Linked DNA regions of Homo sapiens: all the other regions are linked to region 3. Evidence: fine-mapped QTL for protein levels in blood plasma. A gene starts in region 3. Each other region holds a variant in brackets. All regions are shown on one strand. Distances are between the middles of the regions.

Region 1 (4,239 bases), 290 kb after region 3:
AATTATCCAAATTAATAAAGGAGATCATAAAGATAATAAAATAGGTATATGAAAAATAAAAATATTAATGTGAAAATTTTGTCCTCTGAAAAGCTGAAACAAAGAAACAAAACAAACAAACAAAATCGTGATAGGCCTATCTTGAGCTAGATCTAGGAGAAAAAAGGAAGAGAAATTCCAGAATAAATAATTGTAAAAATGAAAAAGTGACATACCATCTATTCAACAGAGATTGACAGGGTAATAAAAGGCTATTTTGCCATAAAATTAGAAAATTGAGATAAAATGTCCAAATAGCTAAGAATATTTTACCAAAATTGAATAAAAAAGGAATAGAAAACCAAAATATCACTGGAATCAGTTTAAAAATTCTTTATTAAGTAAACAATTGGCTGAAATTGTTTTACAGAGTTGTTCTTCCAAGTTGTCACAGAACAGAGCAATATACTTTCTATGAATAATTCTAAGGTACAGAAAGAGAGGGCAAACTCTCAATTTTATTCTGTAACACTAGGAAAATTCAGATGCCAAAACCATACAAGACAGAAAAGGGAATAAATATTACGAGGCAATAAATATTACGAAGGAATAAAAATATTAAAAAAAAATTCCTGTCCAGTCCACCAACCTTACAAAACTCAAGAAGGTTGAAGTTGGAGGAGCCACGTTTTGCTGTTCACAAAATTCCCTTTTTCCACTTTCGTAATGTAAGACAATGCTGGAAAATGAACACTCAGCCAGAAGCCACATTTCTCATCCCCTTTTAAGTGGGTGATACGTTAAGATGGAATTGACCAATGGGATGTGAGTATAGAAGATTTATACCTCTTTCAAACTTGGCTCATGAAAAATTGCATGTTTGAGCATCTGTGCTCTTTTCCTCTTCTGATTGGCTGGAATGAAGACAGCCCTCGTCAGACACTAAATCTGCCAGCACCTTGACGTTGAGCTTCCCAGCCTCCGGAACTATGAAAAATCAATTTCAGGACTTTATAAATTATTCAGTCTAAGAAATTTTGTTATAGCAGCAGGAAAAGCTCAGGACAGTATTCAATAACTATTTGCTGAATGAGTGAACAGTAGTATTTTCGTAGCACATTTAGCTATATTCTAATATTGTTGTTATTCAAATATTCTGTATTCCTATTTGTATGTTAAAGTAATATTTTCATAATCTACAAACAAGTAGGCTGCTTCTAAAATTCATCTATAAAACATATATGAAGAGTGAAATCCCTCACAGTGAGTTTGTTTATACATAAGTAATACAGTTTATTATTGATTTTGAATCATGAAGTGGAGAGTTTATTCAATGTAACAAAGAAATATTGGACAAATCTAATCCCTGAGTCTGTGAGTTTTTAGAGAGCTTTTATTGATTTTCTTTACAGTACATCTGTTTTTCGGGATTAATTAGTACTTCTCCTAGAAGACAGATCATATATCCAAAATAATCTATTTTCTTTTCCTTCAAGAAATTAATATCTAACAAAAAAATGACTGAAGCCTGCTGAGATTACTACACCAATGTGCATTCATCACTTTAATATACCACAGATGTATTTTCCATGTCTAGTGAAGCAAAATGTTGCCTAGATTAAAAGATATGGAAACTGGGGATTCCCAGGCAAGATGGCCAGATAGGACAGCTCCAGTCTGCAGCTCCCAGCGAGACCAACGCAGAAGGTGGGTGATTTCTGCATTTCCAACTGAGGTACTTGGTTCGTCTCATTGGGGCTGGTTAGACAGTGGGTGCAGCCCATGGAGGGTGAGCAGAAGCAGGGTGGGGCATTGCCTCACCCAGGAAGCAAAAGGGGCTGGGTAACTCCCTCCCCTAGCCAAGGGAAGCCGTGAGGGACTGTGCTGTGAGAGATGGTGCTGTCAGGCCGAGATACGATGCTTTTCCCACAGTCTTCACAACCCACACACCAGGAGATTCCCTCGGGTACCTACACCACAATGGACCTGAGTTTCAAGCACAAAACTGGGCCGCCATTTGGGCAGA[C/T]GCCGAGCTAGCTGCAGGAGTCTTTTTTTGTACCCCAGTGGCGCCTGGAACATCAGCGAGACAGAACCATTCACTCCCCTGGAAAGGGGGCTGAAGCCAGGCAGCCAAGTGGTCTTGCTCCAGTGGATCCCACCCCAACAGAACCCAGCAAGCTAAGATCCACTGGCTGGAAATTCTAGCTGCCAGCACAGCAGTCTGGTCAACCTGGGATGCTTGAGCTTGGTTGGGGGAGGGGTGTCTGCCATTACTGAGGCTTGAGTAGGCGGTTTTCTACTCGCAGTGTAAACAAAGACACCAGAAGTTCAGACTGGGCAGAGAACACTGCCAAGCTGCAAAGTCGCTGTAGCCAGACTGCCTCTCTAGATTCCTCCTCTCTGGGCAGGGCATTTCTGAAAGAAAGGCAGCAGCCCCAGTCAGGGACTTATAGATAAAACTCCCACCTCCCTGGGACAGAGCACCTGGGGGAAGAGGCAGTTGTGGGTGCAGCTTCAGCAGACTTAAGCGTTCCTGCGTCCCGGCTCTGAAGAGAGCAGCAGCTCTCCCAGCACAGCATTCAAACTCTGCTAAGGGTCAGACTGCCTCCTCAAGTGGGTCCCTGACCCCCATGCCTCCTGACTGGGATACACCTCCCAGCAGGGGTTGACAGACACCTCATACAGGAGAGCTCCAACTGCCATCTGGCAGGTTCCCCTCTGGGATGAAGCTTCCAGAGGAAGGAGCAGGCAGCAATTTTTGCTGTTCTGCAGCCTCCCCTTGTGATACCCAGGCAAACAGGGTGTGGAGTGGACCCCCAGCAAACTCCAGCAGACCTGCAGAAGAGAGTCCTGACTGTTAGAAGGAAAACTAACAAACAGAAAGCAATAACATCAACAAAAAGGATTCGAAGGTCACCAACAGCAAAGACCAAAGGTAGATAAATCCACAAAGATGAGGAAAACCCAGCACAGAATGGCTGAAAATTCCAAAAACTAGAATGCTGCTTCTCTTCCAAAGGATCACAACTCCTCACCAGCAAAGAAACAAAACTAGACAGAGAATGAGTTTGACAAATTGATGGAAGTAGGCTTCCGAAGGTGGGTAATAAACTCCTCTGAGCTAAAGGAGCATGTTCTAACCCAATGCAAGGAAGCTAAGAACCTTAATAAAAGGTTAGAAGAATTGCTAACTAGAATATCCAGTTTAGAGAAGAACATAAATGAACTGATGGAGCTGAAAACACAGCACAAAAACTTCGTGAAGCATATACAAGTATCAATACTAGAATTGATCAAGTGGGAGAAATCATATCAGAGATTGAAGATCAACTTAATGAAATAAAGCATGAAGACAAGATTAGAGAAAAAAGAATGAAAAGGAATGAACAAAGCCTCCAAGAACTATGGGACTATGTGAAAAGACCAAACCTACGTTTGATTGGTGTACCTGAAAGTGACGGGGAGAATGGAGCCAAGTTGGAAAACACACTTCAGGATATTATCCAGGAGAACCTCCCCAGTCTAGCAAGACAGGCCAACATTCAAATTCAGGAAATACAGAGAACACCACAAAGATACTCCTGGAGAAGAACAACCCCAAGACACATAATCATCAGATTCACCAAGTTTGAAATGAAGGAAAAAATGTTAAGGGCAGCCAGAAACAGAGGTTGGGTTACCCACAAAAGGAAGCCCATCAGATTAACAGTGGATCTCTCTGCAGAAACCCTACAAGCCAGAAGAGAGTGAGGGCCAAGATTCAACATTATTAAATAAAAGAATTTTTAACCCAGAATTTCATATCCAGCCAAACTAACCTTCATAAGTGAAGGAGACATAGAATCTCTTACAGACCAGAAAATGCTGAGGGGTTTTGTCACCAGCAGGCCTGTCTTACAAGAGCTCCTCAAGGAAGCACTAAATATGGAAAGGAAAAACCAGTACCAGCCACTGCAAAAACAAACCAAAATGTAAAGGCCATCAACACTATGAAAAATCTGCATCAACTAATGGGGAAAATAACCAGCTAGCATCATAATGACAGGATCAAATTCACACATAACAATATTAACCTTAAATATAAATGGGCTAAATGCCCCAATTAAAAGTCACAGAATAGCAAATTGGATAAAGAGTCAAGAGCCGTTGGTGTGCTGTATTCAGGAGACCCATCTCACATGCAAAGACATGCATAGGCTCAAAATAAAAAGATGAAGGAATATTTATCAACTAAATGGAAAGCAAAAAAAAAAAAAAAGC
Region 2 (4,239 bases), 61 kb after region 3:
GTATGGATGGGTGTACGGATAAATGAACGGATGTCTTGCCGTTATTTTAAAAAGATTTGGATGGCAAATGAAGTATGCAATTAAATCTCTGCCTGTGCACTAATGGCCCTGGATGAGAAGGAGAGCACTTTGGGTCATCTTCATGCTTGGCAGGGGTTGTTCTTCGAATCGTCAAGCCACGTGCAGGAAGGAGGGCATTTTTTAAATATTACTGCTGGATTTTTATCAGAAAATTTTAAAAAGCTGTTGGTAATTTTCTTGATTTCAACGAATAAAAGTTCCCTGGAGTCAACCTAAAAAGGGCAAATACTTCTGAAGGCAGGACACACACTCATAGGATACACAGTCTATTTTGTGTTGCTGTAACAGAACACCGAGGCTGGGTAATTGTTTTTAAAAGTTTATTGGGGCGTGGGTGTGGTGGCTCACGCCTGTAATCCCAGCAATTTGGGAAGCCGAGGCGGGCGGATCACGAGGTCAGGAGATCGAGACCATCCTGGCTAACACAGTGAAACCCCGTCTCTACTAAAAAATACAAAAAGAATTAGCTGGGCATGGTGTTGGGCGCCTGTAGTCCCAGCTACTCAGGAGGCGGAGGCAGGAGAATGGGGTGAACCTGGGAGGCGGAGGTTGCAGTGAGCCGAGATCGCGCCACTGCACTCTAGCCTGGGCAACGGAGCAAGACTCCATTTAAAAAAAAAAAAAGAAAAAAAAAGTTTATTTGGCTCATGATTCTGGAGGCGGGAAGTCTAAGAAGCACAGTGCCGGGATCTGCTGTGGTGGCTCCGGCAGCTCTGGTGGCTCCGGTGAGGGCCTCCCGCTGCCCCACAACATGGTAGAGAACTGGGTGTGTGCGGAAACGGACCCAGCATGGGAGGCAGCCTTGCTTTATAACATTTACTCTCACTGGAACTACTCCATTCCAGTTTAACCAACCAGCAGCCGTGGTTATTAGCAAGAATCTACCCAGTCTTTCCAGAAAGACACGAGTCTATCTTAACGACCTAATCACCTCTTTTAAAAAGAATTTTTATTATTCTGTTTTTTATAGAGACAGGATCTCACTATGTTGCCCAGGCTGGTCTTGAACTCCTGAGCTCAAGCGATCCTCTGGCCTCGGCCTCCCAAAGTGCTGGGATTACAGGCATGAGTGCTGCCCCCAGTCATTAATCACTTCTTAAAGGCTCCACCTCCCAACACCGTTGCACTGGCTTTTACATTTCAATGTGAGTTTTGAGGGGATCATCCACATCCAAACCACAGCCCCAGAGTGTGACCTGAGTGTCAGGAAGCAGTGCAGCCTCAGACTGTAAAGATCCTGATGGCTGTCTGTGGTGGCCTCTTCATCTCACCCTGCCACCTGGCTTTCCTTGCATCTGTGTCTTCTTCATAACCCGAGAGCACTGACACTTCATGGCCTCAGTTCCACTCACCAGCAGAGGCTGAGATGTGTCTCGTCCAATTCCTAATTCCTACGACATAGATTCTGCCTTGCACACGGCCAGATGTTCACCTGGGTCAAAAAGTAGCAAATAAACCACAAACAACCCCTACTCCCAAACAAGACAAGGCAAGGCCCCATGGAGAAGGCAGAGCTGTGTGAAGGGGGAGCTTCATGGTGGGCACATGGCTGCTGGGCTTCCCCTGAGGGTCAGAGAAGGAGATTCCAGAGAGAACAGGATCTTCAGGGCCTGGAGAGGCAGCCCTAAGAGGTTTTCTGCAGTTGTATGAGATGCAGGGAAGGACGTGTGCAGAAATATGGTAAATTAAAAAAAATTAGCAACAACAAAACAACCAAGCCCCTCCAGGTCCTCCCTAAAGTGTTTTCTCTCTCACGATTCTCTCATCAGTCCTGGGTCATTAAATGCAACTGATGATTTGGTGTAAGATGAGGTCTCTGCATTGGGTACCCCCTCGGCATTAGTCCGTTCTCACGCTGGTATGAAGAAATATCTGAGACTGGGTGACTTATAAAGAAAAGAGGTTTAATTGACTGACAGTCCTTCGTGGCTGGGGAGGCCTCAGGAAACTTACAGTCATGGCAGAGGGCACTTCTTCACAGGGCGGCAGGACAGAGTGAGTGCCAGCAGGGGGAATGCCAGGTGCTTCTAAAACCATCAGATCTCATAAGACTCAGTCACTATCATGAGGACAGCATGGGGGAAACCACCCCCGTGATCCAATCACCTCACTCCCTCTACACTTGGGGATTACAATTTGAGATGAGATTTGGGTGTGGACGCGGAGCCAAACCATATCACCCTCTCCCAAAAGAGAGTTGAAAGAACACCGTGTCCCTAAGCCGCTCACTTCATACTCTTCTTATGCAGGCACCAAGGAAATCAGTGCTGGTGTCGATGAACAAGGCAACATCT[A/G]TCTGGGCTTCGACTGCCAGGAAATGACAGACGCGTCTCAGTTCACCTGGTGTAAATCCTACGAGGAGATTTCAGATGATGAGAGGTTTAAAATTGAAACCGTGGGGGATCAGTAAGTGAGGCCTGGAAGTTGGATACTGGAAACTTTTAGAAGTTCCTGCAAACAGAAATGATCGACATTCACCTACTCTTCTTCCTTTTTAGCTCCAAGCTGTACTTAAAGAATCCGGATAAGGAGGATTTAGGGACTTACTCCGTGTCTGTAAGTGATACAGACGGAGTGTCCTCCAGTTTTGTTCTGGACCCAGAAGGTAATATTTATATGGCAGAACCTTGCCTGTTTTGGTTTTATCACACTTTCAAAGATTGACACCAACATAGAAAAGACTTACTTGCTTAGAAAAAAGACGTATGTTTGCAGGAGGCTGGCGGTGGGGGCTATGTATATAAGCCAAAACTTGCTTTAGAAATTAAACAAACTCTAAAGTTTATACTGTTTCCACCAAGTAGTCTCTGGTCCTGATATATTGCTTGTATAGCCTTCAATTTGTACTTTTAAAGTTGAGTCTTAGCCACATTTTAATAGTTTGGTATGCAGAGGGTAACATATTAACTAAGAAATCCATGAAATTAATGAGAGACCTACGGGTGGAAGAGTCTTCCCTTCCTTCCAACACTGAGAAATCAGATGATCAAAGAAAAATTTTTTTATGCATGTAAAATAATTTTAACTGACGAAGTGAAAATCTGCTGCTGTGTTACCCATGGAAGACGGCAGAGAGAAGTGAGAAAAGTCTGTTTAGTGATCAAGGGGAAAAACAATAGTTTTCTTAGATAGGTTCACAGGTCTGAGTTCACCAGGCACACAGTCTCATGCAGGCAGGGCTGATTTTTTTAAACTGCCTAGCATCACGTGTATTTGTGTGGCCCGTCATCTACCCCACCCACAGGACAGCGTCAGCCTTAGACATTTTTAAACGAAGGGGCAGTGGTGCAGCGTGAACTCGTAGGGCTGGATGGTATCCTCAGATTTCTGGGTTTCTTTGGGTGTCTAAGGCATTTGAATTTCCAAAAGTTTTCTATTAAAGTGCTCTCCAGGGATGGCATAAATGATCTCCAGGGGAGTCCTAAGGTTTACAAGCAGATCCTTTAGTTATCAATCACTGTCCTGGTTGATATCATGCAGAGGCTGTGATCTGAGAACATCCGACCCAGGATCGGTGCTGTGGGCTGGGCAGGAGGATGGGCAGGTATCCACGGAGGGGGAAGCCAGAATCACACTCTCGGCTTCTCGAGTGTGCAGGTTTGGCTCAATGTTGGTGAAATTCAGGAAAACTCATGCACATTTAACAAGACACAGGCAGACAAATGAGGAGGCCGCACTGTCTCGCCTTTCTGGGGTCCTCAGTTCACCACTCACAGGCAGGGTGGGGAAGGACCCAAAATCCATTTGCATGCTTTTAAAGCAGCCTCTGTTGGCCCTGCCTCCAGGGTCTTGACACAGTTTTGTACCTTCACGACATCCTGAAGGACTTCTGAAAAGCTGTGCATTCCTCTGCACCATTTCAAAGTTTCCATCTTAATTTTAACTTTTTTAAATACTTGCAAAAGAAAAAATTCCACCTTCTCTTATATTGTGTATAGACTTCAAATATATTTGAGGTAAAACTTTGCAGTTGAAGATTTAGTTCATTCCATGTATGGAAATTCCTACCAGAAGGTTGAACTGGGAAAGCCAGTCCTCCCTGTGAAACCAGTTGCCAATATGAATTTACTTTTGGGCAGAAAAATCTAACTTCATTTTTCCATTTTGAATAGACATGTTCTTGAAGGCCTTGGAGATCACCATCTTCTTTCTGATTCT
Region 3 (4,239 bases):
TGAGATTGCTGGACTCTTCCTTTGTCTTAGTCAGGATTCTCTTGATGGCCGATGATAGAAAGTCAGCCCAAGGAACTCCGGCAAGAAGGAGCCTGTCTGCCCCAGAGCTGGTGTGTCTGGTGGAGAATGCGGGGCCCATGCCTGGTCCCACCGCCTCCCTCCGTCTTTTGTCCCTTCTTGGCTCCAGGCTTCCTGCAGGTGCACCTCACCCAGGGAGTTTTGGAAGCTACATCCCGGGTGGGCAGGGGCAGGCATGGCTCAGGGAGATGGGGGTCTACGAGGAGGGTGGGGAGGGGTCTCCTGTCCCCAGCAGAAGGCGAAGCTCTGTCCCCATCAGGAGCCTATCTGTGTCCCGGGTCACACTCTGCTCTCTGGGTGGTGTGGCTGAAAGATCCAGGCTTTCTTAGACGCAGCACTGGATTTCTATATCACAGAAGGAGGGCACAGCCACCGTGAAATGTCAGAAAAGGAGGAGGAGTGTGCTGGCCCTTCCTTCTCTCAGGAGAGGCCCCTCCCCGGGATGAGATTGTCCCCTCCTGAGATGCTAGGACTGGGACCCAGGCGACTGAGATGCCAGGACTGGGACTCAGAGGACTGAGATGCCACCTGAGGGGACGAGGCACCATCACTGCCCCTCCAGTGTCGGCCACACTCAGAGGCAGGGGGGCAGAAGGGCTGAAGGGAAGTCCCCCAGGTCCCTGAGAAATGGATTCGCTAGAGAAGGAGATGCTGATAAACCGGAAGTAAACATTGCTTGCTCTGGTCTTGCTGTTTGCAACCCCCCCAAAATATGTGGGTTAAAACCCTAACCCCCAAAACGATGGTGTGAGGAGGTGGGGCCTTAGGGAAGTGACAAGGTCATGGAGGTGGAACCTCCCGAGTGGGATCAGTATCCTCATACAGAGGCCCCAAGAGCGGCCTGGCCCCTTGACTTGGTGAGGACTCAGGGACCGCGCCGTCCCAGAACCAGAAGGCTCTCCCCAGGCAGTGTCTGCTGGTACCTGGATCTTGGACTTCCAGTCCCCAGAACTGTGGGAAAGAAGCTCCTGTGTTTTATAAGCTACACGGTCTATGGTGTTTTGCTAAAGCAGCCTGAATAGACTAAGAAATCACTCAACAAACACTAATTAAATTAAATGCTAGGCCATCAGAATACGAAGGGGAAGAAGACAGAAACACTCGCCTCCTGATCCAGCATCCAGAACGCTCTGGGGCCCAGCAAGAGGCTGTGCTCGCGTCTTTCTCGTATCTGATCTTCGCCTCCATCCACCTGCTCGCTGGTCCTTGGCTGTGCCTCTGATACCCCAGTGTGAGAACGTGGAGTTTCTTAAGGCAATTCTCTTATCATATTTTCTCTACTTGTCACAACAAACTTACAGGAAAGTTGTTATTCCATGCGTTTTAGAGCTGGGGAGCATAGCCCCCGTGGGCTGAGCAGCTGGCCGAAGTCCTCAGCCCCTGTGGTGAGGTGCAGCTGGAGTGTGATTCTCCGGGTCCTCAGATGGGGGCATCCCCTTGAGGCCCCGCCTCTTGGCCAGGCTGCAGCCCAGGACCGTGCCAGGTGTGTGTTATCTATATTTGGACACACGCTGTGCGAAACGACGGGCACCCTGCAATTATCCGTGTGGTGTAGACGCAGTGTACGTCTGTGGTAATGGCTATAAATAAGCCCCGACTTGCCGACTAGGCACCGCTCCTCTTTTGGGTAGGCAGTTCTTGCTAAAATAGCCCTAAGATACAATCGAGTGAAGACCTGAGTCGTTCTTGAAATAAAAAAAAAAAAACGAACAAACACACGAACATGCACACACACGCTCACAAACCCAGGGGCTTGTGCACCTCCCTCCCTCCACAGCCGACCTCAACTCGGGTGTCCAGGCCTGCGAATGGCACAAATGCTCACTGAAATCCATGTCATTATTAAAGACTCATTCAGGAGTTGCAATTTGTGAGCCAGGGAACCTGTAGCTCGAAAGGATTGAAGATATGTCTGAGAATTCACACGTAAGGATTAGAACTCATGGAGGAGAGTTGCGGGGAGGGAGCGTGGGAAGTCAGTGCCCTGCCCTCTCTTTCTGGGTCGGGGGCTGAAGTGTCACACCCGGTTTCCTGGGAAAAGTGCAGTTTGGGACTCAGAAAGGACACGTTCCAGTTTTGAATCGTGATTTCCCCCGCCCTCAGTTTGAACAAGAAGCTTTTCCTCCTGAGGTCAGGCTGGTGATTTACGATGTGGGTATTGATGTGGGGAGAGGCAGGCCCAGGCGTCTATATATAGTAGCTCCTCAGACCTTAAACGGGAGGGAGGCACAGGCGCTTGCTTTGCAGGAGTCAGCTCTGCCTTCCTCGGCTGGAGTGTGGGTGGCTTGGTGAGCCGGTGGTCAGGAATTCTCTCTCCTCCTTGCAATTTTCCTTTCTGTCTGGGTAAGTGTCTTTCTCTTCTTGCCTTTTCTAATTTGTGGCTTTAAGGGGAGGACCGGTAACTTCTGCACTCACATTTTCTAAGTACCTCTACTTCAGGGTCAAGAAGAGAGAGCCAGTGCACCCCGTCGCAGGCACCCTTTACTGTGGAAAACAGAGCAATTAGTTCTGGGATCTGTATTTCTTTGACGAGGTTTTATGCTCAACTAACATTTTATTTCCCACAGCCGTGGTCTTTGCTAAGTGCCGTTTAGCACCCTGCGGCGTGTGCTTTGGGTTTTAGCCCTGGTCTCATCGTGGCCCCAGGGGGCCCCCCAGTCAGTGGACTGATGTCTGCAAGTTTCATGAGATTCTCAGAAACGAAAGCCTCCCCCGAGGAGAGGGCTGACTTATAAAGGTGTGAAATAATAAAACTGGATATTTTCTTAAGGGAAAAAAGAGTCGAGGGTCATTCAGCTTAGACCTAGCCTATATTATCCACGGTATGGGAAAGAGAACAATCCTTGTCAGGACTTGCAAGTTTTTGCCCAAAAATGACAGCGTTCTTACGGCTGTTTTCTTCTTTGTGCTGTTGGGTGTGTTGTGACCCTTCAGACTTCTTCAGCTCCACTCCGCTGATAGAGGCTGTGCCTTCTCAGGGCGTGCTCTTGAAATGCAACCTGCTGGAGAAAGACAGTGGGGCTGGGTGGTTGCACGTGGAAGGCACCGGAGGCAAACGGAAGGAAGGGGTTTGCCATCACTGGGAACACCTGGCCTTTTCTAATTCTCCATTTCACATTCCTTTCTTACTAAGTAGAAGTAAAACAGGACTCAAAGAAAGCGTGGAACAAAGATAATTTAAGGCGTTATTTAATAAACCAAGTCCCAAGCTAAAACTTGTCTTGGGAGCCAAGGGCTTAGCCACTTGTGGCACAGGCCAACGCTGCGTGTCTGGGAGTCCCTTTCCCCTCTAGAAAGCTTTAATTTGGTGTATTTATTGACTTTGACATTTTTAACTGTACAAACAATTTCCTTCATTAAGTGGAAGTCAATGTTTTGTACTTCAAACATTTTTGCAAATTAAAACCCATCCTGGTGACATGAGGAATGGGCTCCACACGTTGTTTGCAGGAAGGAATTAGGATGGGGATATCAGACACGTGGTCCCCTGCACTGGAGGAGAGGCTCGCGTTTCATCCTGGTGTCATGATTCCTAAACGTGTCAGGAGCATTCCGGGAGTGGCCGGGGAGCTGGGCTGTGGTGGAAAGTGGGCTGGACGCTGTCAGGAGAGTCAGCTGGCGCCTGGGTTCGGCCGTGGCCCTACCGGTGACCCGGGCAAGTCATATTTCCCTGGGGACGGTCTGTGCTAACAGTACAGCGTGGCGCCAGGATTATCTACACACAGGCTGTCCAAGCTGGGGGACTGTTAGCTGCCACCTCACTCAGCCCCCTGTTTTACAGCAGAGCAGGTGGAGGCCCCTGAGCTGAAGGTCAGCAGGTCCCCACTGGAGTCTCAGCCTCCCAATGCGCCTGAGCCCCAGGGACTCACATCAAAAACTACCCTGCGAGGAAAAGCTGCTTTCTTTCTCTCTCTCTTTCTTTTTTCTTTTTTTTTTTTTTGGTTGGTGTGTGTAGGGGGTATTTAACACATGTCTGAGATAGTTCCTTAAAAAGGAAAACAGCTTTCTATGTAGACAGTAGAGGGACATTGGGGAGCTGATCGGCCCAGGTCCTGTCATTTTCTTTATAGTGTCATAAATAGTACAGGTTGATCATTCCAAATCTGAAGATCAGAAATCCAGAATGCTCTAAATTCTGAAACTTTGTGAGCGCTGGTATGA

Which allele goes with the higher level. Alleles are on the strand shown, and positions count from the first base shown. The strength of an association depends on the size of the effect and on how common the allele is. Not every link is listed here.
For the plasma level of the protein whose gene starts at base 2,299 in region 3, allele C in region 1 goes with a lower level than allele T (strong association).

What was found. PIP is the posterior inclusion probability: the model's chance that the variant is causal. The UK Biobank Pharma Proteomics Project read protein levels with antibody pairs (Olink). The fine-mapping took linkage between variants from a reference panel, not from the people measured, so its PIPs are less certain.
Region 1: its variant is fine-mapped to the plasma level of the MYOM2 protein (UK Biobank, PIP above 0.99).
Region 2: its variant is fine-mapped to the plasma level of the MYOM2 protein (UK Biobank, PIP above 0.99). The variant lies in the coding sequence of MYOM2. If it changes the protein, the assay may bind it differently, which can mimic a change of level.

The regions. Positions count from the first base shown.
Region 1 is chr8:2,334,993-2,339,231 of GRCh38, forward strand. No RefSeq gene overlaps it. Among named protein-coding and RNA genes, the nearest start is that of MIR7160, 260 kb to the left of the region's middle. RefSeq lists enhancers at 1,543-2,281, 2,282-3,020. The variant C/T (reference allele first, on the strand shown) is at 2,006.
Region 2 is chr8:2,103,912-2,108,150 of GRCh38, forward strand. It overlaps MYOM2 (myomesin 2), which reads left to right. Exons shown (of 37, transcript NM_003970.4): 22 at 2,331-2,487; 23 at 2,580-2,686. Among named protein-coding and RNA genes, the nearest start is that of MIR7160, 29 kb to the left of the region's middle. RefSeq lists an enhancer at 1,682-2,880. The variant A/G (reference allele first, on the strand shown) is at 2,376.
Region 3 is chr8:2,042,748-2,046,986 of GRCh38, forward strand. MYOM2 (myomesin 2) reads left to right here and starts at 2,299. Exons shown (of 37, transcript NM_003970.4): 1 at 2,299-2,421.